Homo sapiens: one gene and its partners. The protein of the gene in region 2 purifies or fractionates together with the protein of the main gene of each other region. This does not show direct contact. Each region holds a gene or a part of one and is shown on either strand. Other genes may lie near its edges.

Region 1 (3,500 bases), on a different chromosome or scaffold from region 2:
TTCCTTTTTTTTTTGAGACTCAGAGTCTTGCCTTGTCACCCAGGCTGGAGTGCAGTGGTGCTATCATAGCTCACTGCAGCCTCAAACTCCTGGGCTCGAGCAATCCTTCTGCCTCAGCCTCCTGAGTAGCTGGGACTACAGATGCATGTCACCATGCTCGGCTAATTTTATTTTATTATTATTTATTTTATTTTACTTTACTTTTTTGAAACGGAGTCTCGCGCTGTCACCCAGGCTGGAGTGAAGTGGCACAATCTCGGTTCACGGCGCCCTCCGGCTCCTGGGTTCAAGTGATCCTCCTGCCTCAGCCTCCTGAGTAGCTGGGATTACAGGCCTGCACTACCATGCCTGGCTAATTTTTGTATTTTTAGTAGAGACCGGGTTTCACCGTGTTGGCCAGGCTGGTCTTGAATTCCTGACCTCAAATGATCTGCCCGCCTCAGCCTCCCAAAGTGCAGGGATTACAGCCATGAGCCACTGCACCCTACCTTATTTTATTATATTATTAGTATTATATTGAGACAGAGTCTCCCTCTGTTGCTGTGTTGCGGAAGTGCAGTGACATGATCATAATTCACTGCAGCCTTGATCTTCTAGGCTCAAGCCATCCTCCTACCTCAGCCTCCCAAGTAGTTGGGACCACAGGCATATGCCACTGCACCTGGCTAATTGTTTTTATTTGCTTTTTGTAGACAGGGACTTGCTGTGTTTCACAGGCTGGACTTAAACTCCTGGCCTCAAACAATCCTCCTGCTTTAGCCTCCCAAAGTGCTGGGATGACAGACATGAGCCCTGAAGGGATGGGGCTTTGGCCCGTTAAATGTCACTGGAAATGTTTCCCTCCAGAATGTGCTCCTGGGTGACCTGAGCGATGGTATTAACAACTATGGGTCCCACCAGCCTCCAGAGCTGCCAGTCGTGGCTACAGGAGACTCAGCCTTAGGCTGGGGCACAGAGAGGCTGAATAGAGGGTGAATGAACAGGCAGCGTATGGGAGGGACCAGCGTTTCTTGGTATTATACAAAAGCTAGTGGAGGTGGTGCTGGTTGGTGTGGGGTGGGCGACTGGCACGGTCAGATGCCTGATGCCTGTTGGCCTCCTCAGAAGGGGAGGCTGGCAGTAGTGGGTTCTGGGACATGCAGGAGGGTGGCCTGGATTTGCCCTGCAGCACTGAGGTCTGCCTGTTCCCCACTGGGTCCTCCATTTGAGGCCCTGTCAGCATGGCCCTCGTCCCCCTTGCTTCTTTTCCCCATGGGCCTCTGCAAGGTTACTGCCCACCCTCCACCCCACCTACCTGCCTGTGGTGGGCACTGAGAGCCAGGGAAGCAGATCCTCACTGCCAGGCAGCAGGCCATGTGCGCATCCATCAGGGTGCCAGACCTTGTCCCCACGCAGCCCTGGCTGGGGTCACTGCTGCTGCTGCTCTCTGCCTGTGGCTCTGGCCCATCTTTGCCCAGGCGTTCTGTCTGAATGGTTTTCTTGTCGTGCCTTTTTTAGACACCGCATGGAGTGAGGTTTGGGGCTTGCCTCAACTGGAGTCTCATTCTTCTTAGAGAGGGAGTTTAGCCCGTTTCCATTTGGCCTTAGGACAGAAGGCCCTGTTGGTTTCTCTGAGAAGCCAGGGGAGGAGCCCTAGGCTGGAGAGGGGATTCTAGAGCGGGGTGGCTCTCAGAAGCAGAAGGTGGGCAGAGAGGACGGTGCACGCTGGGAGAGTTCTCGAAAGCATCAGCAGATGGGCCCAGAGTGCCTGGAAAGCTTCCGTCCTTCACAGACAGCGCCATGCTCTAAGAATAACCCATGCCAAGTCCAGGCTTTCTTCCTGTTTTGCAGAATTACCAGGTTGTTAGGCTAGGGGAACGTATGCTGGGATTCTGGGAAGAATTCCACCCGCACTGGTATTCTTAGAGGACGGGAAGCCCTTGGCTGCGGTGTGAAGAGGGCTCTCTCTTTCCATTCATATCTCATAGATCCTCTGGCCAGGCTTGGGGGTGTTGAGGGACTCCAGGAGTGTGGGGGGAACTTCCTCCCTGGAAGAGGCCTGTGCTCTGTCCCTGCTGAGGCTGGTGGCATTTGCAGTCACATGGTGAGCTCACAGTGACTGTCCCCCTCTTACCTCCCTGGCAGGGTTGGCAAAGACCACACCAAAGTCCCAAGTGATTAGTTCCCCGGCCTCCCTGCACAGAGGCTGTGCATGTCCCCTGGGCATTCACTCTAGCTGTCTGGGCTGCAGGGAGGCAGGGTGCCTGGCCCAACTGGAGATGGCACTCTACTGGGGGTGGTTAAGTGTTGACCATCACAAAGGCGACCTCTTTTGTCACATCTGTGTGAGAGGAGCTGGACTTTCTCAGATATGGATGAGCCTCACGACGCACATCCTTTCGTCCCTTGCTTGTCTACCAAGTCCCTATGTGCTCCAGGAGGCAGTGGTACAGGCCAGCCGCTCCGTATGACCAGAGAACCAGTGCCTCACACTCCAGCGCATTTCCTTCCCAGGGTGCACCAGGACTCTTGTAAAGAGGGCATTCTCGTGTAAGCAGTTGCTTTTTTTTTTTTTTTTTTTAATTTTTATTTTTTTGAGATGGAGTTTCCCTCTTGTCTCTTAGGCTGGAGTGCAATGGCACGATCTCGGTTCACTGCAACCTCCACCTCGTGGGTTCAAGTGATTCTCCTGCCTCAGCCTCCTCAGTAGCTAGGATTATAGGCACGCACCACCACACCTGGCTAATTTGTTTGTTTGTTTGTTTGTTTGTTTTTTGAGATGGAGTCTTGCTCTGTTGCCCAGGCTGGAGGACAGTGGTACGATCTTGGCTCACTACAACCTCTGCCTCCTGGGTTCAAGCAAGTCTTCTGTCTCAGCCTCCCAAGTAGCTGGGACTACAGGCGCCCGCCACCACGCCCGGCTAATTTTTGTATTTTTAGTAGAGACAGGGTTTCACCATATTGGCCAGGCTGGTCTCGAACTCTTGACCTCGTGATCCACCCACCTTGGCCTCCCAAAGTGCTGGAATTACAGGCGTGATAATTTTTGTATTTTTAGTAAAGATGGGGTTTCACCATGTTGGCCAGGCTGGCCTCAAACTCCTGACCTCAGGTGATCCACCCGCCTTGGCTTCCCAAAGTGTTGGGATTACAGGCGTGAGCCACCTCGCCCAACCAGCAGTTGCTGTAAAATTTTTTAAAAGGATGTCACTTATACTACCCAGTCATTAAGACTTCCTGAGGTGGAAAGATCACTTCAGCCCATGAGTTTGAGAATAGCCTGGGCAACATAATGAGACCCCACCTCTCCAAAAAAATTTAAAAATTAGGGCCAGGCGTGGTGGCTCATGTCTGTAATACCAGCACTTTGGGAGGCCAAGGTGGGTGGGTCACAAGGTCAGGAGATCGAGACCATCCTGGCCAACATGGTGAAACCCCATCTCTACTAAAAATACAAAAATTAGCTGGGTGTGATGGCACGCACCTCTAGTCCCAGCTATTTGAGAGGCTGAGGCAGGAGA
Region 2 (3,500 bases):
TGGTACTGGGTGGGTGGACACTTATGGATACTGGCTCAGCCTGTGCCGAGTGGCTAGGGGTCAGAGGGCTGGTGCCTAAGGCTCCCAGATGGGCAGACCCCTGGGAGTGTCTCTGTAGGTCAGCATGGTGTCCTGGCATCCTTCTTAGGAGAGGGGCTTTGGCTTGGCCTAGGCATAACCGAGTGTCTCACGGCCCCACAGGCCTTCCTCGAGACCACCCGGAGAGTTACCACTCCTTCATGTGGAACAACTTCTTCAAGCACATTGACATCCACCCAGAAAACACCCACATTCTGGATGGGAATGCAGTCGACCTACAGGCAGAATGTGATGCCTTTGAAGAGAAGATCAAGGCTGCAGGTGGGATCGAGCTATTTGTTGGAGGTGAGCTTGACACTCTGCAGCACACATGTCCAGGGCCAGACCCGTGGGAAGGAGGACAAGACACAATGCCTGTCTGCAGACAGCTTCTTCTGGGTGTGCTAGTGACCGTAGAGACAGAGGCGGGAGAAATGGGCCCTGCCTGGCTCTGTTACTCAGGAACTATGTTATCTTGGAGATCTCTTTCTGCAGTTTGATGCCTTGTCTGTAAACTGAGAGGTTTGGGTTTGGACTCTGAGATTCTGTCTACTCCCCAGTCTTAAGGTTTTATGGATCAGTCCTGGAACTTATCTAAACATTTAACATCATGGACTCATGTAGTTCCGGAAGGCTCCACACAGCCCCTGTAGATAGCCAGTTGAACCCCAGAGAAGTTAGGTGACTCACTCAAGGTTCACAGGTGGGAGCAAGTGTGTGCTTCTTGGATTTGTGCTCGGGTCCTCTGGGCTGCCCTTCTGTGTATCCATCTATCGCCACCTCTGGAGTTACCCATGAGGGGTAACATTGAACTGCCTTTTATTGCTCTAGAGATCACTCTTCTATACTTCAAGGTGGGGAGGAGGGGGGCAGGACCTCTCATCCTCTGAGATTTTAGAACCTTGGCAGCCCCTGTCCAGGTTCTCTGGGTGTTTTGTTCACTGCACCTCTATCCCAGCAGCAGGACCCTCTAACTACAGGCAGAAGAGACAGAGAAGGTCCACTTTTCTGACAATCTGGGGAGGCAGAAGCTGTTTGGAGTGTTTCCTCCTCAGCTTTTTGAGGGTGATAGCAAGTTAACAATGTCTGTGTGTGCCTCAGATAGACATGATGGGGAGGGTCTCCTCTGAGACAGTATGGCAAAGAGAAAGAAATGGTAGGGAGGGGGACAGATCACATGTTTAAGGTGTACCTGCCCAGGGCTGCAAATGAGAAAGGTGACACAGCTTTCAATGATTTTTCTTCAGACCCTAGTTAGGGAAGGAGAGATTGTCCATTCTTGAAATCTTGGATCCCTGGGACTGACAGGGCTGCACGGGCTCTCTCCCTATAGGCATCGGCCCTGATGGACACATTGCCTTCAACGAGCCAGGCTCCAGTCTGGTGTCCAGGACCCGTGTGAAGACGCTGGCCATGGATACCATCCTGGCCAATGCTAGGTTCTTCGATGGAGAACTCACCAAGGTGCCCACCATGGCCTTGACGGTGGGGGTGGGCACTGTCATGGATGCTAGAGAGGTAAGGGCATAAGGGCCCCACCAGCTTGCGCTGGTGGACTTGTCTTTCTCTTGTTAATCTTAACTATACTGGTACCACCTACATTCTTATTAAAGATGAAGGCATGGTAAATAAGGCTAAAATCCCTGCTGACCCTGTTACTCACTGTTCCTCTTGCGTCTTTGGAAGACATCATTATTCCCAGTGTGAGGTGAATCCCTTGAGCACGTTTTTGGTGCCTTTGGCTGACTGCCTGAGACAGCAGGCTCTCTGGCCTCAGGCCCCTTTCATGCTTTTCACAGGCAGAGAGGAGGCCAGCATCGCTAATGTTGGAATATTTGTACCTGACCAGGTATGGAGAGAGGGGTTCCCTTGTTCCTTGTAGTTGGTAGAGGTCACTGTTGGGACACCAAGGATGCTTGTGCTTCTAGCCCCGTGCTCAGAGATTAATAAATGTGGTGAAGTATGATTAAAATATAAGTGTTTTAAACTGAATTTAGCTTTTCCCCTAAAAAATTGGCTATCATTTGAATGTGAATTTTTTGTGGTTCCAATTTCCTTATTTTCATTAGAACTTTAGAAGCATTTTCTCTTCCTTTCTGACGTGTATAGACATGTTAGATTTACATTTCTTTGCCCAAGCCAATAAACAAGCATCTAAATCAGTGAAAACTTCCCTGTTTAAAGTGAACTTTTGTGAAATGAGTGATGGCACCCAGATTTCTGTTGGGTAATCTTCAATCAGTACGTGGGGTGGGGGTGTTTACTCGCTGTTTTTAGCTCTGCAGCTTGGAAACAGGTTTAGGGCCGTCTTTATCATGAGGGCATCTTGATCTGGGAAAGGACCTGGGGCTGGAAATCAGGAAATTATCTTTTCTAAAGAGTTCTGGGTTGCTGAGGGGTCCGGAAGAAATAGTCACATTCCCTCTCTGCTTCTGCATTCTAATCTTTTAAGAAAGGAACAGTAAATCCTGTTCACAACTCTGTGGCACATGTGAATTAAAATGAAAGGAAATCTACAGAACTGAGTTTTTTTCTCTTTTCCTGCCCTTGAATAGAGCTGAGTTCTTTAAGATCACTTACATTCTCGATATTTTAACTGTTAAGTGGAGACTGTGCCTTTGTTTTATTATATATTAACAAAAACCATCACCCCAAGTCACATTAGTTCATAGGTTTAATGCTGTGAACTGAAAGTGACCAGATAATGGGGCAACCTTTCTGGGATTCAGCCTTAGAGGCCCCACAGATAACTCCCACCATTGCTTGCAAAGTGCCCTTGCTGGTGGTGCAGGTTGGGAGCCCTCTTTCACAAACTGTGCTTGTGTAGAGTCACCCAGCTGATGGGATAGCAGGCCTGGGCATGGCATGTCTGTTTACAGGGCACCTTCATAGTCATCATCAAAGATACCTGGAGGCACTGTCACGTGGTAGTCAAGAACATGAACTTTGGGGTCATAAATGACCCTGGGCAAGTTATTTAACCCCCTGGGGCTCTGTTTTCTTATAAGATGGAGATAATGATGCTGCCTGCCTCGGGTTATTTGTGTGATAAAGCACAGGGAGCACTGAGCAAAAGTATGTTGCATGGTAACCACTTACAATGTGATATGAAAAACAATCATCCTTACAACTGTTTAGGGTGTCTGGAATGCTCCCCTCCATCACAGACTTGTTTTCTGATCCCCAGGTGATGATCCTTATCACAGGTGCTCACAAGGCATTTGCTCTGTACAAGGCCATCGAGGAGGGAGTGAACCACATGTGGACCGTGTCTGCCTTCCAGCAGCATCCCCGCACCGTGTTTGTGTGTGACGAGGATGCCACCTTGGAGCTGAAAGTGAAGACTGTCAAGTATTTCAAAGGTGAGGGAGGTGTGGGTCCAGGAGGAGGTGGTCAAGCTTAGGGTGTGCTAGGAGTAAGGA
Region 3 (3,500 bases), on a different chromosome or scaffold from region 2:
ACAGCGTCAAAAAATAATAATAATAATAAGACAATAACCAAAACCTTTTTATTTTTTTTTGAGGCAGAGTCTCACTGTCGCCCAGGCTGGAGCGCAGTGGCGCGATCTCGGCTCACTGCAGCCTCCGCTTCCTGGGTTCAAGCGATTGGCCTGGGTTCAAGAGATTCTCCTGCTTCAGCCTCTCGGATAGCTGGGACTACAGGTTCACGACATCATGCCTGGCTAATTTTTGGATTTTCAGTAGATGTGGGGTTTCACCACGCTGTCCAGGCTGGTCTCGAACTTCCGAGCTCAGGTGATCTGCCCACCTCTGCCTCCCAAAGTGCTGGGTAAAAATTATAATCGTGAGCCACTGCACCCACCCAATAACCAAAACATTTTTATATGTATTTGTTACTAAATCAAATAAAGGTGTTTAAAGTGGACTATTCACTTTTCTTTTTTTTTGGAGGGGGCGGCAGGGGACAGAGTCTCACTCTGTTGCCCAGACTGGAGTGCAATGGCGTGATCTCAGCTCACTGCAACCTCTCCGCCTCTGGATTCAAGCCATTCTCCTGCCTCAGCCTCCCGGGTAGCTGGAACTACAGGCACGTGCCACCATGCCCTGCTAATTTTTTGTAGTTTTAGTAGAGACGGGGTTTGACCGTGTTAGCCAGAATGGTCTCAATCTCCTGGCCTCGTGATCCGCCTGCCTCGGCCTCCCAAAGTGCTGGGGTTACAGGCGTGAGCCACCACTCCTAGCCACTTTGCATCTTAAATACATATTCCAACACCTGAATTTTCCAATTATCATGTGGAAGATCATTTAAGTAACATCAAACCTTGGTGATGTGAACTAAATTTACCTCTTCAACTTAGTATCTATCATTCCATTCACTTCAGAGTCAACTAATTTTGAGGTACATAAGCATAATCTCTGAATAACAATTTCTTGCTGAATAAAGTTGATATTAACACAATCAAAGAGGTTAAATTTTACTCAGGAATCTCTGTAGGATTTTTTTTTTTTTTTTTGAGACAGAGTCCCATTCTGTTGCTCAGGCTGGAGTGCAGTGGCACAAGATTTTGGCTCACCGCAAACCTGCACCTCCTGGGTTCAAGCGATTCTCCTGCCTCAGCCTCCCAAGTAGCTGGGACTACAGGCGCATGCCACCACACCCGGCTACTTTTTGTATTTTTAGTAGAGATGGGGTTTCACCATATTGGCTATGCTGGTCTTGAACTCCTGACCTCAAGTGATCTGCCCACCTCCGCCTCCCAAAAGTGCTGGGATTACAGGTGTGAGCAGGCATGAGCCACTGCATCCAACCAACTCAGATATCTCTGTAGTCGTATGTGAAGCAGTTCAAAAGAAGTTCAGAAACATAAAAGAATTAAACCTTTTCAATATAATCTTTAAGCAAGATGGAAATCTGTAGTCCTAAACTCTGAATTTATACCTTTTCCTCACTGTTATTTTTCCATAACTAGATTATCAGAGGTAGCCTAATTTGCTGGATGGTCTCCTTTCTCTCACGTGTCTCCAACTGACCATTAAGTTGGAAAGATGGAACAGAACATTTTATCATTATGTTGAAAAATGGTCTAACTAGCCTTAAAGCTTTAAAAGCTTTGCTTTTGGACAGGTGTGGTGGCTCATGCCTGTAATCCCAGCACTTTGGGAGGCCGAGGTGGGTGGATTACCTGAGGTCAGGAGTTTGAGACCACCCTGACCAACATGGTGAAACCCCATCTCTACTAAAAATACAAAAATTAGTCTGGCATGGTGGCACACGCCTGTAGCCCCAGCTACTCGGGAAGCTGAGGAGGAGAATTGCTTGGACCCAGGAGATGGAGGCTGCAGTGAGCCAAGATTGTACCACTGCACTCCAGCTTGGGTAACAGAGACTCTGTCTCAAAAAAAAAAAAAAAAAAAGCTTTGCTTTTATGAAGATCATTCTTTTTGTTTTTGTTGTTTGCCTCCCAAAGTGCTGGGATTACAGGCGACCGCCTGGCCGATCATTCTTAAAAGCTCTAAGGTTATCATTGTCCTAATACTTTCACTTACTATCTTTAAGGAAGTGACTTTTCCTACAATTTGCTTTTCCTTTAATGAGTCCTCAATAAAAATTTTTCCTGACACAAAAGGTGAAAAAAGGAGAATCAACGCAGAGTATTAATTAGGACCTAAATCCTTCAATCCAGGAAGAAATAATCCTTATTTTAGCAAATCTATGACATTGAAACTGGTATTTAAAAAAAAATTTACCAAAAGATTTCAATGAAATGGTCTCTCACAACTAGGTTATAAGTACCACTTGGCTGATGGCAATTACAAGACTTCATGGATTCCAAGAATTTTTTTTTTTTTTTTTTTTGAGACAGAGCTTCACTCTGTTGCCCAGGCTGGAGTACACTGGCATGATCTAGGCTCACTGCAGCCTCCACCTCTTGGGTTCAAGCAATTCTCCTGCCTCAGCCTCCCAAGTAGCTGGGACTGCAGGTGCGGACCATCACACCCGCTAATTTTTTTTTTTTTTTTGAGACAGAGCCTCGCTCTCTCGCCCAGGCTAGAGAGCAGTGCCTCGATATCAGTTCACTGCAAGCTCCGCCTCCCGGGTTCACGCCATTCTCCTGCCTCAGCCTCCCAAGTAGCTGGGACTACATGTGCCTACCACCATGCCTGGCTAATTTTTTTGTATTTTTTTAGTAGAGATGGGGTTTCACCACGTTAGCCAGGATGATCTCCATCTCCTGACCTCGTGATCCGCCCGCCTCGGCCTCCCAAAGTGCTAGGATTACAGGCATGAGCTACCGCGCCCGGCCCACACCAGCTAATTTGTGTATTTTTAGTGGAGACCGGGTTTCACCATGTTGGCCAGGCTGGTCTTGAACTCCTGACATCAGGTGATCCACCCGCCTCGGCCTCCCAAAGTCCTGGGATTACAGGAATGAGCCACCACACCTGGCCATCTAAGAAATTTCTTAATCAAAAAGAAGTTAAAAGGTAGAAAAATATGCATCTTGTAATCAACTAAACAGGATAAAAGCATATTCTATGAAAAACTAAGGCATCATATTTGGTTTGAAAAATGTTCTGAGAAACAACAAAAAGTGAAACTTCATTTAGTTTCCAAAACCCTTAGACCTTAACTGTGTTTCCATTTATAACGTTACCTTAGTTCACCCAGTACTCAAGACAACTTCATCTTCCAGAAAGAGACAGCTAAATGCCCTAAGAGGTAGTTTCAAAGTTAACTGAGAGAAATGGGGGAATAAAAGAGCATTCGTTTTATAATTTTAAAGGAGCTGTTTAAAATTGTCTTTAAGTTGCCTATCCAAATACCTTACAAGAGGATTCTTAGCTCATCGGCAGTAAACCCTCTGAAAAAGATACATAAAATTAGTTTACGTGTACCCATTTTCTCTGAGAAAATTCTTCAATTTCTCAAAAGAATCCCTGTCTCAAAAAGGCAAACAATCATTTTCCTAAAAAAATTTTTTCAGCCAGGCGCGGTGGC
Region 4 (3,434 bases), about 41 Mb from region 2:
AATTTACTAAGTATTAACTCACACGATCACAAGGTCCCACAATAAGCCATGTGCAGGCTGAGGAGCAAGGAAAGCAGGTCCGAGTTCCAAAACTGAAGAACTTGGAGTCCGATATTCGACGACAGGAAGCATCCAGCACAGGAGAAAGATGTAGGCTGGGAGGCTAGGCCAGTCTCTCACATTTTTCTGCCGCGTATATTCTAGCCATGCTGGCGCTGATTAGATTGTGCCACCCCAGATTAAGAGTGGATCTGCCGCTCTGAGTCCACTGACTCAAATGTTAATCTCCTTTGGTAGCACCCTTACAGACATACCCAGGATCAATACTTTGTATCCTTCAGTCCAATCAAGTTGACACTCAGTATTAACCATCACACTTGCAGTCTTCTATCTTTGCTGGCCACAGCTGAGGGATAGCTTGTCCTGCTTGGTTTTGGAGCACAGCCTCTATCCCTGCCATTCTTGCCAAAAGAGCGTCCTGTTAACAGACCCACTAAGATTATACCGTGTACTCCTGGTTCTGTTGCAGAGTTTGTTTGTTTGTTTGTTTTTGTTGTTTGTTTGTTTGTTTTGAGATAGATTTTGGCTCTCGTTGCCCAGGCTGGACTACAATGGCGTGATCTCAGCTCACTGCAACCTCTGCCTCCCGGGTTCAAGCGATTCTTCTGCTTCAGCCTCCCAAGTAGCTGGGATTACAGGTGCCTGCCACCATGCCAGGCTAATTTTCTGTATTTTTAGTAGAGGCGGGGTTTCACCATGTTGGCCAGGCTGGTCTCGAACTCCTGACTGCAGGTGATTCACTCACCCGGGCCTCCCAAAGTGCAGGGATTACAGGCGTGAGCCACTGCACAAGGCCTGCGGCATTTTTTTTGAGTCAACCAGTCTACCTTCTACAACTTCTATATCACCTCTCCAGAGAGTAGGAATCCTTAGCTACTTTTCTCATACCATATTGATTCTCCACTTTTTTCAGACTGCTGTGGAATTCCTGAGAAAGAGCAACTGAGGGATAGCAACATGGATTTCACTGAGTAGGTGGCAATTGAGTTAAAGTTATTTTTTTAAAGATATAAGTTAATCAAATAAGAGCCTATGAAGGCCCAGCATGGTGGCTCATGCCTGTGATCCCAACACTTTGGGAGGCCAAGGTGGGCGGATCACTTGAGGTCTGGAATTCAAGACCTCGCTTAAGGCTGGAAGACCATGCTTAAGGCTGGAAGAGAATTGGCTTAATTCTTGATAAGTTAAAAATAATTCCAATTGGGCATATAAATAAGAATGCCTTCTTCAATATTACATTTGGTCGTGGTTGAGTCATGCCAGGGAGGGAGTGGGGAGTGGTGGTTCCTACAGTAGCCCCTGAACAGCATGAAAACATCCAGAATAGAATTCTGAGGAAATTCCCACTCAAGGAATGAAATACTCTAAATGAGAGAGCTGGTCATACAGTCTTATAAATATAAACAGGTTCAAGGAAATGTTGGGCACAATGTAATATGATTGCTAGATCATAATAGTTATGCTAATTTGCATATGTTTTGAGGTTAATTACGAGTCTCAAAACGCCTTTCTGAAACCATATCTTAAGAGACTCTTTATGTGGTAGGTAATTTTCTATTTGAAAAAAATCTTTTAGATATTCCTCAGGGTCTCATATATAGTCAAGTTCAAAAGGCTATTTAGTGATAGAATTTGGATTAGGTTCTAGTAATTTTGTGTTCTCCTAGTTTATGAAACTGCAATTTTGATTTTACAGATTGACTTTTTTTCATAGTCTACAAATTCATTATCAGTATTATCATGGGTTTCAAGCGTTAAAAGGACAAGGGCTGTACAAAAGAATTCTAAGTGTTACATGTTTTTTTTTAATAACCTTCAGTATATTTTTTAAAGGATTAAATTTACTTTCAAAGTAAAAATATATTAGAACCTCATTATCTTATACTAATCATTTAGAGAACTATTACAGACTGCTGACTAAAGATTCAGATAAGATGAAAAAGAGCATTATTCATTTTCAGATGTTTTTCCAATGAAGTTCTAAATGTTATTGATGATTATAAAGGAAGATTTATTAAGTTTGTAAAATATGCACATTTTGTTTTTTTTTTTAATTTGGTTTGATCAAATGCTTTTCATTACGATGGCTCTTACTAGCAGAAATATTTTTGGAAGGCAGGATTTAAATTAAGTAGTAGTAAAGTTGTATAATTAGAATTAAAATCTATAAAAATTTGTATGTCAAAATATAGTTTTATATTATAATAAACTAGTTAGGCAATAAGAGAGTAAATGGGCAAACTTGCCCCATTGTAGTGTTTATTGGAAATCTTGTCTTTAGTATGGATAATTTTTGTTACCGTATTATAAATTTCCAAAGCATTGATTGTTTTATAGATTATACCTAGTAGCTTGTAGCTTTAGTAATCCTCATTTCTGAAGGTTAGAAATAGGAACAAATAACTGTATTTATAGGAACCATAGAAATGAATAACTGTTGTTGGCTCTTGAATAACATGGGGGCTAGGGGCACCAACTACACAGTCAAAAATCCACGTGTAATTTTTGGACTCCCCAAAAACTTAACTACTAATAACCTGCTGTTAACTGGAAGACTTACTAATATCATGAACAGTCAATTAACATGTATTTTGTATGTTATATGTATTATATACTCTATTCTTACAACAAAGCATGCTAAAGAAAAGAAAATGTTACTAAGAAAATCATAAGGAAGAGAAAATATATTTACTGTTCATTAAGTGAAAGTAGATCTCATAAAGGTCTTCATCCTTGTCTTCACGTTGAGTAGGCTGAAGAGAAGGAGGAAGGAGGGGCCGATCTTGCTGTCTCAGGGGTGGTAGAGGCAGAAGAGTTGAAGCAGGTGGAAGGGGAGGCAGGCACACTTGGTGTAACTTTACAGAAACACATCTGAGATTTTTGCCTTTTGATTTCTCTAAAACTGTTTCTATTGGTACCAATTCTTCTTCCACAGCTTGCTTTAGTTTTAGTGTCCATATCATAGAAAGGTCCATGTCATAAAAGAAGTTGAAAGCAGTCTTGAATAATTGGAATTCTTCTGCCACATTGACTACTGCCAATTTGTTTTCTGGTACAGCTTCTTCTACATCTTCTTCCTTATCATGTGGCACTGGTTCAGAAGCACTCATCTCCATCAAGTCATTTTCTGTTCATTGTTCCATTGTAATGTCAGTTAGCTCTTGAATTACTCCAAGATCCTCATCTTGACATCTTTTATTACCGATTTTTTTTTTTTGCAATATCCACAGTTTCTTTCATGATTTCCTTGATTGGCTCTATTGTAAATCCTGTGAAGTCATGTGCAACATCTTGAAACAGTTTCCTCCAGCAGAACTTACTGTTTTGCACTTGATGGCTCTCAAGTCTTTTTCAATAAAATAGCAGCATCTTCA
Region 5 (3,500 bases), on a different chromosome or scaffold from region 2:
ACACTAGCCTTGCTTGATCCAAAAGATACTGAGGGATCCTAATGAAAAATAATATAAGGCAAATTAATGCCTTAGCTAATAAAATAGTAGTTTTACTTTTTAAGGTACAGATAATTCAGACTAGATCATAATTTAAGAATGATTAACCTCAACTGATTATCATAGTTAAAGCCAATAGATACGTTAAACACAACCATCATGCAGAGATTCATTTACTAGTCTGACAAATATTTGTTGGTAACCTTTTATTTGCCAGGTATTGATCTAAGTGCTTGAGATACAACAGTGACAAGATCAAATAAAGATTCCCACTCTTGTGAAATATATGTTCTAGTAGCAGGTAAATAGCTAATATACAGTACATGGGCCGGGCACAGTGGCTCACGCCTGTAATCCCAGCACTTTGGGAGGCTGAGGCGGGAGAAATCACCTTAGGTCAGGAGTTCAAGACCAGCCTGGCCAACATGGTGAAATCCGTCTCTACTAAAAATACAAAAATTAGCCAGGTGTGGTGTTGGGTGCCTGTCATCCCAGCTATACTCGGGAGGCTGAGGCAGGAGAATCGCTTGAACTCAGGAGGCAGAGGTTGCAGTGAGCTGAGATCGCGCCACTGCAATCCAGCCTAGGCGACACAGTGAGACTCCGTCTCAAAAACAAACAAACAATAAATATAAGCAAAATACACAGCAGCACAGCAGTCATAGGACAGTAATAAGTGCTCTGAAAAAAAGAAAAAGTAGAGAAGAGTAAAGGGGACTAGACATACTAGACTGGGGCTGAGGACAGGTTGCAGTATTAAATGAGGCCTCTTTAGGAAGTGCAAAGACCAGGGGTGAGACTTGGCCAGGTCACTGTCTCAGAGTTACAAGCAGAGGGAACAACTAAAGCAAAGGTCCCATGCTGGAGCATGATTAGAGTGAGTATTCAAGGACAAATAAGGAGGCCAGTGTAGCTGGAATATTGTGAAGGGAAAGTAAGGAAGGAACTTAGAAGGATAACTAGGAATCTAAATTTAGAGTCTTGCAGACCACGATAAAGACTTTAGCTTTCTTTGGTTCTTTCTTCCTTTCAGTCTCTGCTCAAATTCCACCTTAACAGGTGAGACTATGATAGGCAAAGGGAAAACCTAGACTACTCAGTATAATATAGCAACTCAACACCCCCAACTCCCCATATTTCCTTTTCTCTTTATTCTTCTTTAATTTCTCCATAATACTTACTATCACCTAACATACTTGCCTTATTGTTATGCAAACTCCTTAAGTAGGAAAGAACTTTGGTTTGCTAACTGCTATCTCCCTAATGACTAGAATAGTACCTGGCACACAGCTGGCACCTTAAACAATAATTTGTTGAATAAATGAACAAAAATAGTGATTTGGCAGTTAGATTACTCATAAGCCTGGTCATTAAGTGTCTCAACATAAGAGACGGATCCACTTTTACTTAAGTGTACTGGCCAAATCAGGTTTCTAAACCTATTAACTGAAGAGCTGAATCTCTCGAGAGGTAGCCTGTTGGCCTTCACCTGGCAGATTCACTGTCTTTATTAATGTCATTAGACAAGACTAATGCTTTTATCTGAATTATAGTAACCTCTATATTTAATTTTTTAGTGTGCATCAACTTACATTTAAATTCTTGTTAATCGCTGCATATAATGTTGAATACTTACGTTAACTTCAATCTTTTTGCATGACCAGGCATTACAGGAACATAAAGCATTTTGACTCCCTGTACCACCATTGTTGGCTCAATTCCATACTTCTCCTAAAAGTGAATATCCAAAAAAGAAACAATGAAAGCCTCGCTCAAACATAAAATGCTTATTTAACATTGTTCGTAAACAATGTTTTATGACCAGTAAAAAAAGCAAATTCATGGTAAATAATTATAACTTCCAATAAAATTATAAATAAAAACAAAACAGAAACCAGACATAAAGCTACTAATGAACTAAATGAACAAAAGTATCTCACTTTGACTGCATTTATGAAATCCAAGAGGGTGAAATCTTCTTTTCCATGTACGGTCCATCGATCCCAAATTGTAAATGATATTCCATTTCTGTTACAGAAAAATATTCAGAACAGAAACATTGAAATTTTCTTCCTTTTAGTGATGACACACACACAAAAAAAACCCACTTTCAGAAGTCCATTATTTGTGATCAGGCTAGAAATTAATGTGGGGAAATAAAGGATAATATATCTTCTAAAATATTCCATAATCTTATTTCTTCATCACATCATATAGATAACCACTTTTAATCAGTACCTTGCTGATCCTTCCAGTGTATTATAAATCAGTATGTTTTAGCAAGACAGTGTTGTCTCTCTCTTTTTAAAATGGGTTTCACTGTGTGGATGTTCCAGTACCCCATTACTGGACACTTCGGTTATTCTAATCATTGGCCACGATAAATAATGCCAGAATAATTATCTTGCAAATATATAGTTTGAGACTTGTGCAAATGTATCTGAAATATAGTGCTATATATCCCTTACTGTGGATTATAGTATTTTGTACTCTCATTAGTAATGTATGAGAGTGTCTGCTTTCTCACACCCTTGTTAAGGTAGGTTTTTTTTCAAGTTTTTGGTTGTTGCCAATCTGAAAACTAAAAAGTACAGGCCCAGGAATTGTTCTGCTTTGTCTCAAGCTTGTGGAATTCTTCTAAATCTCATGACCTACAGTCAGACACCAGGGTACCTTCTAATTCATCTGGCAGACACAGATGAAACCATAATGCCAAATAATGTGGCAGATAAAGTGCTGTAAGGGTTCTTTGGCTACTTTAGTCAGAAATATTTAATGAAGATGAGGTTTGAGCTGATCTTGAAGTGATGGCAAAAATTTACACATACACAATAGAAGAAAAAAGAGGTGAAGCTAGTATTTTTCCCTTTTAAAAGGTAAAATATTTTATTTCATTCTCATTATACAAGAGAAATAGACTTTCATACATACCTGATTTTAGTTTTCCTTACTTCAGTTGTCTCTGTAAATACTACAATTGGAATGGCTAAGTTAAGAAAACAATTTTTGTAAGCTTCAAATGGATAGCCACCAGTTACTTTGATCATCTCCAAGGCAACCTAGATAAAAGAAGGTGATCTGATAATATAAACAGCCTAAAACTATCCGTGATTTTAATTGCATCTATTCAACTTTCACGTTTTCAAGCATTTCTCTGTGGATAGTAAAAGCAGCTATGGGACTATAGTAATATAAATTTCTTATTACAGGTCTGTATACTTTTAGTATATTTTATACTTTCAAACTTTCAACCTACTCTATACATGTTAACAGTTATTTAAAAAAATATTAATTCAACCATACAGTCTCCCTATTTTGAAAGCACATGCTGTAACTCAAAAAATAACAACAGTCTAAAATCACTTAATACAGGGGTAAATAACTACATAGCTTCATAGATAATTACATAGAGTAATGATGTAATATGGTATAATAACTAGGGCCGCACTTAAAGATTCTGA
Region 6 (4,278 bases), on a different chromosome or scaffold from region 2:
GAGGATGGATTTTCACACTGGATTTATGGTCCCACGGGACTGGGCTTGCCTCCCAGCTCTGTACACTAGCAATTCTGACACTGGCCAAGTCACTTGACCTGCCTGTGCCCCAGTTCCCTCCTCTGAATGGCAGGACAGTAACACCACCCGACAGTGTTCTGGAGAGGACTGGGTGCAACGCTGTGTGCTGAGCCCCTGGCTGGCAGCGTTCTGAGAGGACTGGGTGCGATTCCGTGTGCTGAGCCCCTGGCTCATGTCAGACATGACAGTGCAGCTCTTTGCATTGAACAAATCGATCCCTCTGCTGAGTCATGACTTGCTCTCTGTTCCTGATAGTGCCCAGAGACCGGGGACTTTTCCTCCTCTTCTTATCTGGAAGTCTAGAAAGCAGAGCTGAGCCCTGTGAACCAAAATGTGGGCAGCCTTGTTTTGGACTCAGCATCACCAGAGGACACCCAGGCCCGACCCCGAAGTGGGGAGCTCAGCCTGGCTGGCCAAGACTGCGTGCCAGCAGGAGGCCAGTACGTGGCTCTTAGCCAAGGTGCCCCGCTGCCTCAGAGGCTCCATGGTCCTGCTGGCCACCTTCCATGACACTTTGATTTTAGACTTCTGACCTCCAACACTGTAAGAACAAATGTGTTGTTTTGAGGTTGACCAGCTAAGGCTGCTGTGGCATTTGGATCCATGTGTGTCCATGAGGGCTCTGGGCATGACTAGGAACATTTATCCTCACAGCAACCCCGGCCACTTTTACAGATGAGGAAACTGAGGCACAGAAAAGTTCAGTCACTTGCTCAAAGTTACACAACTGGTCAGCAACAGAGCTGGGATTTGAACCCCAGCACCCACGCTTCTAACCACCACACAGGCTTCCTCTCATGAGTAAGCTGAGAACATCCTTATTCCTGGCTCTCCCAGTGCTTCCTGGACCACACAGCACGTGGTTCCAGCTTCCCCCAGGCCCTCCAAAGAGGCTGGGCTAGATGAGGCCAGACAAGAAGTGGGAGTGAGGTTTCCAAGCCAGGCCCTCATGGCACTCAGCCCTCCTCAGCAGGACAGCGAACCGCGTGACCTTCCCCCACTGTCGGCATGTGGAGGAAGCGTGGCTCCGACTGCCAGATGGGTCACCAAGTGAGGCTTAATTGTCCCAACCCAGGGGAGCCCCCGTGGGGTAGAGGGGTACTCTGGACACCCATAGGGGCTGCACTGATCATCTTTCTTGTCTGGACTCCAAGGCCCTGTTTTAACTCTCTGATGTCCGTAGGATAATTTTCCTTCTGAATCCAAGGATTAGAAAGTAAAAACCAGTCACCAGAATAATAATATGTCAGAACCTGGAAGAAGCTCTGGGATCCCCTCTTTGACAGAAAACCAGAGACAGGGTGACATGCCCAAGGCAGCACCTGCTGACCCTAAGGCCCCCACCAGCGGCCTGTTCCAGCTTCCCCCAGCCCCCTCTGTGCAGGTCCTACCTCAGGGGCCTCCACAGGGTGGCTGAGGTGTCATTGGTGACAGCCAGGAGGAAACAGGCCTCCTTTCCCCATTCTTTCTCTCTGGAGTTTAGAAAGCAGAGCCGAGCTCTGCAGACCAGAACGTAGGCAGCCTCATTCTGGACTCAGTGTCACCAGGGGGCACTCAAGCCCGACCCTGGCCTCTGCTGAGGTGGGCCATGGCAGCTTCCCTCCCTCAGTACCCTGCCTCTGCCCACCCTCCCCACCCTGCCTCCCCACCCAGGAAGGACCCATCAGCCCACCCTCTCCAGCCCCTCGGGAAGCTCTTTGCCAAGGCGGGGTGAGATCCTATGACAGGAGCCGGCCCAGGACACAGTGACCCCTGAAGTCTCCTGGGCTCCTGGGGCTGCCACTCCCATCTGGAGGCATTTGGCAACTGGCCTCTGCCTCCCTGAGCCTCAGATTTTCCGTGTATGAAGGGGACTCATAAACCTCACAGGGTTTCAGCAAGGCACCTGCCGCCCTCTGACCCCACGCTGCAGGGACAGTCCTCACCCCCCTCTCACCTCTGAGACTGCCCCTCCACAGATGCCCTGAACATGCCCATGCCCAACCTTCAGAGCACAGACACCTCCTCGGGAGGTCTTCCCTGCTGCCCTCAGACACCCAATAACATGAAACACTCCCAAAGCACCTACAGTGTGTCAGGCACTGTTCAAACACACTAGATACACTACTTCCTTAATCCATATCCCAACCCTGGGAGTGGGGGGCTCAAGTATTATTCCCACTTCACAGATATGGAAACTGAGGCCCAGAGACCACCAGCCAGTAAATAGCTGGACCCAGGGAGGCCACCTTCACAGTAAGCACCCTTAACTACCATGCCGGGTAGCGTCCTTACTGTCCCAGAAGCGTGCTTGCTTCCTCTTTACATGAACCACCCCGCTCTACATGTCTTCCCCTGAGCACACAGGACAGGACAGGACAGGACAGCTCAGTCAACACTGTCAAAGCCATGACTCGTGGGAAGGAGCATCCCTCCAGGCATGAGTGAGCTCAGCACGGCACAGGTGTGCCAGGATGACCTCCTCTGATATTTCTGCCCTGCTTGTGTTCTCTTTGGGATGCCCCCACCCCCATCCCCTGCCACCCAGGAGTTGCTTCCTCAGAGCCCCAGAGCTGTGTCCCTCTGGCTGAGGCAGCCCTGTGCCCATAGCCCTGGAACTCACTGGACTCAGGTAGGGAGCCTGGGAACCGCTGAAGGCCATCTCTCCGCCGCCTCTGTGGCCACCGCTGCCTTTCACACCCACTAGGAAGTCCTTTGTAGAGGGAACGACTTAACAAAGAAATAGAAACCAAAGCAACTTGGCTGTTATTCAATGGGGAGGAGCCGGCAGCAAAAGGAAGTGGGTCCAGAGAGAGAAAGGTATGGTACTGGGTGGACTGGGGTGACACTCACAGAGGGAAGTAGGCACTCCCAGCCCCAGTGACCTTTCCCTCCTCCCTCTCCTGTGCTCAACCCAAGCCTGAAGCATATTTGGTTCATAGAGGTCTACAATGCTTGACCACACTGACATGACAGCAAGTTGCCAGATGACACTGCCCAGAAGTATGTGGCTGTGTGTCCTAAGCATGCTTGGCCACGGAGTCCAGAAAATAATGGGGCTGGGCATTGCCTGTGCACAGGGTGCTTGTGGGGAAGGGCGGCTTCAACCCATTTTACATACAGAGAAGCTGAGGCTCAGAGTCTAAGGGGCATGCCCCAGGTCACACAGCTAATTCGTGGCCGCCTGAACTTTATGAAGATTCTCAGACTCTTCAAAAAGTATTTCTCCTGTTTAAATTTATATTATTCATGTAAAAACATAATTATGTAGAGGGGAATATTTTGCAAGAAAAACACCATAATGAATATTTTTATTCTACAGTATGGGGTGCCCAGGAGCTTCTGATCCTCCCTCTCAATGAATCTCTCTTGATTCTCTTCTCCTTCTCTTCTCCATCCTTATTTTCTGCACTTTAGGATGAGGAGAGAAGTCTTGGACATGATAGAACATTTCAAGTGACATGGGGCTGGGAAGGAACATATGGCATGTGCAGGTCGTGGGGGAGGGAGCCATGAAATAAACTTACCTGAAGTCGACCAGGTCCCAGCGATGTGCTGGTGAGAAGGCCCAGAACTCAAGCTGGGTAGGGTAAGTGCTGGCAGGTAAGGGCTGTACGGGTGCGAGAGGATGGCAGGTGCCCCAGGGCCATACGTGAGTCTGCACCTCTCTTCCTTCCTGTGCTCCACCTAGATGCACTAGAATTTGCAGACTAATTCCTTTGAGATGCTCCAATAGACTGAGGCCATGTGTGCCATCTGCACTGTCCATCCCCATTATGTTCCTGGATCAAGTACCAGTTTAAGGAGTAGACAGTACAAGGGGAGCAGAAAGGAGAGAAAGGAAGGGAAATTCTTTGCGATCCTCTCGGACACCAGGGACAATTTCATCACGGCACATCATTTGTAGGCAATCACAAATTGATTGCGATACGCAACAACTGGAACTCTCATTCACAGCAGACTGGAGTGTAAAATAATCCAACTTAGAAAAATGGGCAGGGCGTGGTGGCTTATGCCTATAATACCAGCACTTTGAGAGGCTGAGGCAGGAGGATCACTTCAGCCCAGGAGCTTGAGACCAGCTCGGGAAAGGTTGGAAGACCCTGTCCCTACATATAATTTAACAAACAAATTAGCCAGGTGTGGTGGTGCACACCTGTGGTCTCAGCTACATGGGAGGCTGAGGTGGGAGGCTCACTTGACCCCAGGAGGTCAAGG
Region 7 (4,022 bases), on a different chromosome or scaffold from region 2:
TCAAATGTTCATCTTATTAAAATAGCCTTCTGTGACCTCCTTCTACTAAATAGCAACATCCCCAGCCCACCCATCTTTCTCTGTCTTCTTTAACCTGGTTTATTTTTCTCTATAGTACTCACCACCATATAGTATACATATATTTTCTCTGTTCATTCACTGTTTGTCTCCCTAACTAGAATATGAGCTCTATGAGGATAAGAACTTTGTTTCTGTTCACATCTACATGGTAGATGCTCAACAAATAAAGATTATTAAAGGGTTATTTGTAACAGCTTTCTGACTTCTGAAGGCATTATGAGAATAGCTTATATTTGGGACAGAAAATAATAATAGCAGCTATCATTTATTGAGTAGCACTGTGCTAAAAACTTCATATACTTGCTCTCATTTAATCTTGACTCTTCTACACAACAGGTATTATTATCCCATTTTATTTTATTTTTGTTTGTTTGTTGTTATTTTGAGATAGGGTCTCACACCGTTGCCCAGGCTAGAATGCAGTGGCATGATCTTGGCTCACTATAGTCTCAACCTTCCAGGTTCAAGCAATCCTTCCACCTCAGCCTCCCCAGTAGCTGGGACCACAAGTGCACGCCACCACACCCTGTTAATTTTTTTATTTTTACCTTTTTGTAGTGATGGGGTCTTGCTATGCTGCCCAGGCTGGTCTCAAACTCCTGGCCTCAAGTGTTCCCTCTGCCTCAGCCTCCCAAAGTGCTGGGATTACAGGCATGAACCACCATGCTTGGCCTTATTATCTCATTTTAGAGATAACTTAAGATTCAAGGAAGTTAAGTAACTAGCTCAGCAACACACAACCTATAAGTAAAACAGTTGCAACCTGAACCTTAGTTCTGCCCTAGCTCTAAAGTTGGATAGTCGACAGGTCGTGGGTCAGAATCCATAGAACATCATATGGTTCTTGAATTCCTCCCTCAGAAATCAAGGTCCCCTATATTCTAAATGGACCATTTCCTGATCCAGGCAGTACACTGGGGCCTCTCTAAGCTACATCAGAAGCCCTCTTGGAGGTCAGAGTACCATAACTCCAACCTCATAAGAGCAGGCTGGATGCTGCCTTATTGGTCAAGGTAGGGTACCCCACCCTGCAGTTCTCTCTTGGGTCCCAGTGGGAGGGGAGCTTCACTCACACTGGGGTTCTTGTCCTCATCATACTCATCCATGTGGTAGGTCCTGTAGCCCTCCTCAGCTGAATCCCAGAACCATTTAATCATTCTTCCTCTAGAGGACAGGTAGGAGGTATCAGAGGAGATCATGGCAGGATCACCCACTCCACGGAGCTCTGGCAGCTTCTGGTCCAGTTTTCTGGAGCATTCTCCTTCCAGATCTTCCCCATGGCTACTGCCCAGGTCCTGCATGCAGGTGGGGCCCAGACAGGTGGTGGGAGCCCTGAAGTCCTTTTGAGGAAGGGTGAACATCTGCAAAAAGACAAAACGCACAGGCCTGCTCAAGGGATTTCCATAGCACCAAGCATCAGAAAGGAGTTGGAGTCATGGGAGTCCCCTTTCTCTTATCTGCCCCTTCCTTTAGGTTTATGCACTCATCACTTCCTGTGTCCCTTAGCTGTAACCATATGTGCAACGACTTCAACAAGAAAAATCTGTTAAGGACCTAGTACGTGCCAGGGACTGCACTTGCCACATTGACGTGACTTTAATGTATTGCTGCTTTAGCGTGTTCTACTTCTGCAAAAGTTTTTCACTCTCCAGCCTAAGGGGTCATCAACATTCTTTTTCCACCCTTGCTCACCTCAATTACCAAATGCCAGGTTAAAATTTCCTGAGTTAAAGCAGAGTATTGCCTGGGAGTCCTGGGGGTCTTGTGGTGTAAAGGGTAGGATGAGATTATGTGGTGTTCTGAGGCAGATGGCGGGTAGGAACTGAGGGAAGGGAGGAATGGGAACCTCCACAAGTGCAGGCAACCCAGGCAGAGCTCCAGGGCCTGCCTCTTCAGTCCTGAAGAAACGAGGTGTGGACACCAAGGAGAGGGTGGTCTACTCCTGCCCGCGGGTGTGAACTCCTTCACTTCTCTAAGCCAGTTTAGTTTCCTCATCTGCACAGTGGATATAACAGTAACCACCTCGGGGTGGCCGTGAAGACATAAATATATATGTTAGTGACAATAAAGTACTTAGAACAAATCCTGGCTGATGACCAAAGTTCAATAAAATATGAGTCATTATAGCGTAACTCCTTGCCAATTTTCCCAGTCCTGATGCACAACACAAGCTCTGGTAACACTGGGCGCACCATAAACTCAGCGGGTACCCGCAGTTAAATTTTCCTCCGCAAAGTCTTCTCAGGGGTACTCTTTAAATTGGCTGGGCTCTCCCAAGAGCGCTCACCTCCAGCTCTCCCGACAGCCCAGGTCCGAGGAAGGGCAGCACAGTGGGCGGAAGCCGGGGTGGGAGTAAAGCCTGGGGTAGGGGGGCGGCGGGGTTCGAGCCTCCAGGCGTCCAGCAGGACGGCGGCGAATCCACAGCCAGATACCCGCACTCGATGAGGCCTTGGAATCCCGCAAGTGGGGCGGCTACCGCGCACGAAGAACCGAAACGGCCTTCTACAGGGCGGAGGACGTCTCGCGAGAGACGGCTCCAGGTTTCCAGGCAGAGGAAGTGTGATCGGCGCCAAGGGATTCGAGATGGAAGGGCAGAGGCTTTTGCAAAGTGCACAGAGGGAGGCCTGAACGGCTTCCTCCTCTGCAAAGTAGTGGATCCCACCTACTTGGCGGAGCTGGAGGAGGCGGTGCTGGCACTCGGTGGGCGCCCATCACGTGTAGGTTTTCTCCGCCCGGAAACGCCCTGCGGCGACTTACGCGTGGGTGAGGACAGCGCCCCCCTGCGCTCAGCGCGCCCGGACTAGGAGACTGAGGGCGGTCCGCACCGGGTTGGGCTTCCAGGCCTGTTCAGGGCGCAGTTCGTCCCCTTGCCACTCAGGCGGGGGCGGTCTCGGCGGGGACTACGCTTTAAGGGTGGCACACGAGGTAGCACCGCGGGACCAGGAAAAGGGAAAGGGGCGTAATGCCGTTTCCCACCTCCACTCTGGGTGGCCTGCGCGTGCTGGGCCGCCGCCGGGCCGGGTCTGCCACCTCCTTCTGCCTCCTGGCCTTGGTTCTCCAGTTTTCAAAGGAGGTTAGAGCCACAGAAATTTCTTGCCAAAGTATGCTTGGCTGCGGCCCACACAAAGGGCTTTTTAGATTCGGGTGTGAGCATCCTTATGGCCTTTCATCGCAGTTTGTCATTTCTGCCCCTTTCATTTGTAGGGGATTTTCTGTAGCCCTCATAGGTTCTTAGTTGGGGGAGACTCCTGTTACAAAAGACAAATTAACAAGAGAAAAACAGACAGAAATTTACTGACATGTGTATTTCATTTATACATGAGAAATCTGGAGGGAATGAGTCGTTCTGGAAGAGGTGACTTTGAATTCCAGTTTTTATAGCATCTTCAACAAAGAACAGTAATTTTTTTAAGTTACAAGACAAAGAAATAGGGCTTTGAGTCTCTCCAGGAGGCAACTTGTGAGAAGGCAAAAAAAAAAAAAAAAAAAAAAGACAAAGGCCAGTTAGTCAAGCTTGTTAATGTAAATTCCTCTGGTACCATCTCCAGGCCATAGGGGTCTAAAGTTGTCTTTGTTCTCCTAGGTAGACAGAGGGACAGGATACCTTTTGTCTTTGTAAACCTGTGTCCTACTTTTAGGCAAATAGGGCCAGGGTAGAGAGCTTTCCTGAATGTGCTGCTGCTTGTCTTTAGCACAATCCTTCATGTTTTGGGGAGGCATGTCCTGGTCTCCCACACGTGCCTGCAATATTTGTTGAACTCTGGCTAGGTGTGGCGGCCCACGCCTGTAATGCCAACACTTTGAGAGGACAAGGTGGGAGCATCCCTTGAACCCAGGAGTTTGAAACCAGCCTGGGCAACATAGAGAGACCGTGTCTCTACCAAAAAAAGGTTTTTATGTTTTTTTGTTTTTTTGAGACGGAGTCTCGCTCTGTCATCCAG

What was found.
Region 1: the proteins of GNPDA1 (region 2) and TANGO2 fractionate together in Homo sapiens (co-fractionation; one large-scale study listed by BioGRID). This does not show direct contact.
Region 3: the proteins of GNPDA1 (region 2) and UBE2R2 fractionate together in Homo sapiens (co-fractionation; one large-scale study listed by BioGRID). This does not show direct contact.
Region 4: the proteins of GNPDA1 (region 2) and FAM174A purify together in Homo sapiens (co-immunoprecipitation; one large-scale study listed by IntAct). This does not show direct contact.
Region 5: the proteins of GNPDA1 (region 2) and UBA6 fractionate together in Homo sapiens (co-fractionation; one large-scale study listed by BioGRID). This does not show direct contact.
Region 6: the proteins of GNPDA1 (region 2) and LGALS9 purify together in Homo sapiens (co-immunoprecipitation; one large-scale study listed by IntAct). This does not show direct contact.
Region 7: the proteins of GNPDA1 (region 2) and ACCS purify together in Homo sapiens (affinity purification with mass spectrometry; 2 studies listed by BioGRID and IntAct, with this or other methods). This does not show direct contact.

What each region holds. Positions count from the first base shown.
Region 1 is NC_000022.11:20,027,610-20,031,109, forward strand, and holds part of TANGO2 (transport and Golgi organization protein 2 homolog), read left to right. Parts: intron 1-3,500. UniProt on the Homo sapiens protein: May be involved in lipid homeostasis.
Region 2 is NC_000005.10:142,003,028-142,006,527, reverse strand, and holds part of GNPDA1 (glucosamine-6-phosphate deaminase 1), read left to right. Parts: intron 1-201; coding exon 202-384; intron 385-1,411; coding exon 1,412-1,596; intron 1,597-3,265; coding exon 3,266-3,440; intron 3,441-3,500. UniProt on the Homo sapiens protein: Catalyzes the reversible conversion of alpha-D-glucosamine 6-phosphate (GlcN-6P) into beta-D-fructose 6-phosphate (Fru-6P) and ammonium ion, a regulatory reaction step in de novo uridine diphosphate-N-acetyl-alpha-D-glucosamine (UDP-GlcNAc) biosynthesis via hexosamine pathway.
Region 3 is NC_000009.12:33,823,660-33,827,159, reverse strand, and holds part of UBE2R2 (ubiquitin-conjugating enzyme E2 R2), read right to left. Parts: intron 1-3,500. UniProt on the Homo sapiens protein: E2 ubiquitin-conjugating enzyme that accepts ubiquitin from an E1 ubiquitin-activating protein, and catalyzes its covalent attachment to other proteins by an E3 ubiquitin-protein ligase complex.
Region 4 is NC_000005.10:100,580,374-100,583,807, forward strand, and holds part of FAM174A (membrane protein FAM174A precursor), read left to right. Parts: intron 1-973; coding exon of another isoform or gene 974-992; exon of another isoform or gene 993-1,031; intron 1,032-3,434.
Region 5 is NC_000004.12:67,621,156-67,624,655, forward strand, and holds part of UBA6 (ubiquitin-like modifier-activating enzyme 6), read right to left. Parts: intron 3,099-3,500; coding exon 2,971-3,098; intron 2,068-2,970; coding exon 1,980-2,067; intron 1,771-1,979; coding exon 1,676-1,770; intron 1-1,675. UniProt on the Homo sapiens protein: Activates ubiquitin by first adenylating its C-terminal glycine residue with ATP, and thereafter linking this residue to the side chain of a cysteine residue in E1, yielding a ubiquitin-E1 thioester and free AMP.
Region 6 is NC_000017.11:27,629,710-27,633,987, reverse strand, and holds the start of LGALS9 (galectin-9), read right to left. Parts: upstream 2,801-4,278; 5' UTR 2,723-2,800; coding exon 2,684-2,722; intron 1-2,683. UniProt on the Homo sapiens protein: Binds galactosides. Has high affinity for the Forssman pentasaccharide. Ligand for HAVCR2/TIM3. Binding to HAVCR2 induces T-helper type 1 lymphocyte (Th1) death.
Region 7 is NC_000011.10:44,065,048-44,069,069, reverse strand, and holds the start of ACCS (1-aminocyclopropane-1-carboxylate synthase-like protein 1), read right to left. Parts: upstream 2,801-4,022; 5' UTR 2,369-2,800; exon of another isoform or gene 2,077-2,368; coding exon of another isoform or gene 1,774-2,076; intron 1,443-1,773; coding exon 1,155-1,442; intron 1-1,154. UniProt on the Homo sapiens protein: Does not catalyze the synthesis of 1-aminocyclopropane-1-carboxylate but is capable of catalyzing the deamination of L-vinylglycine.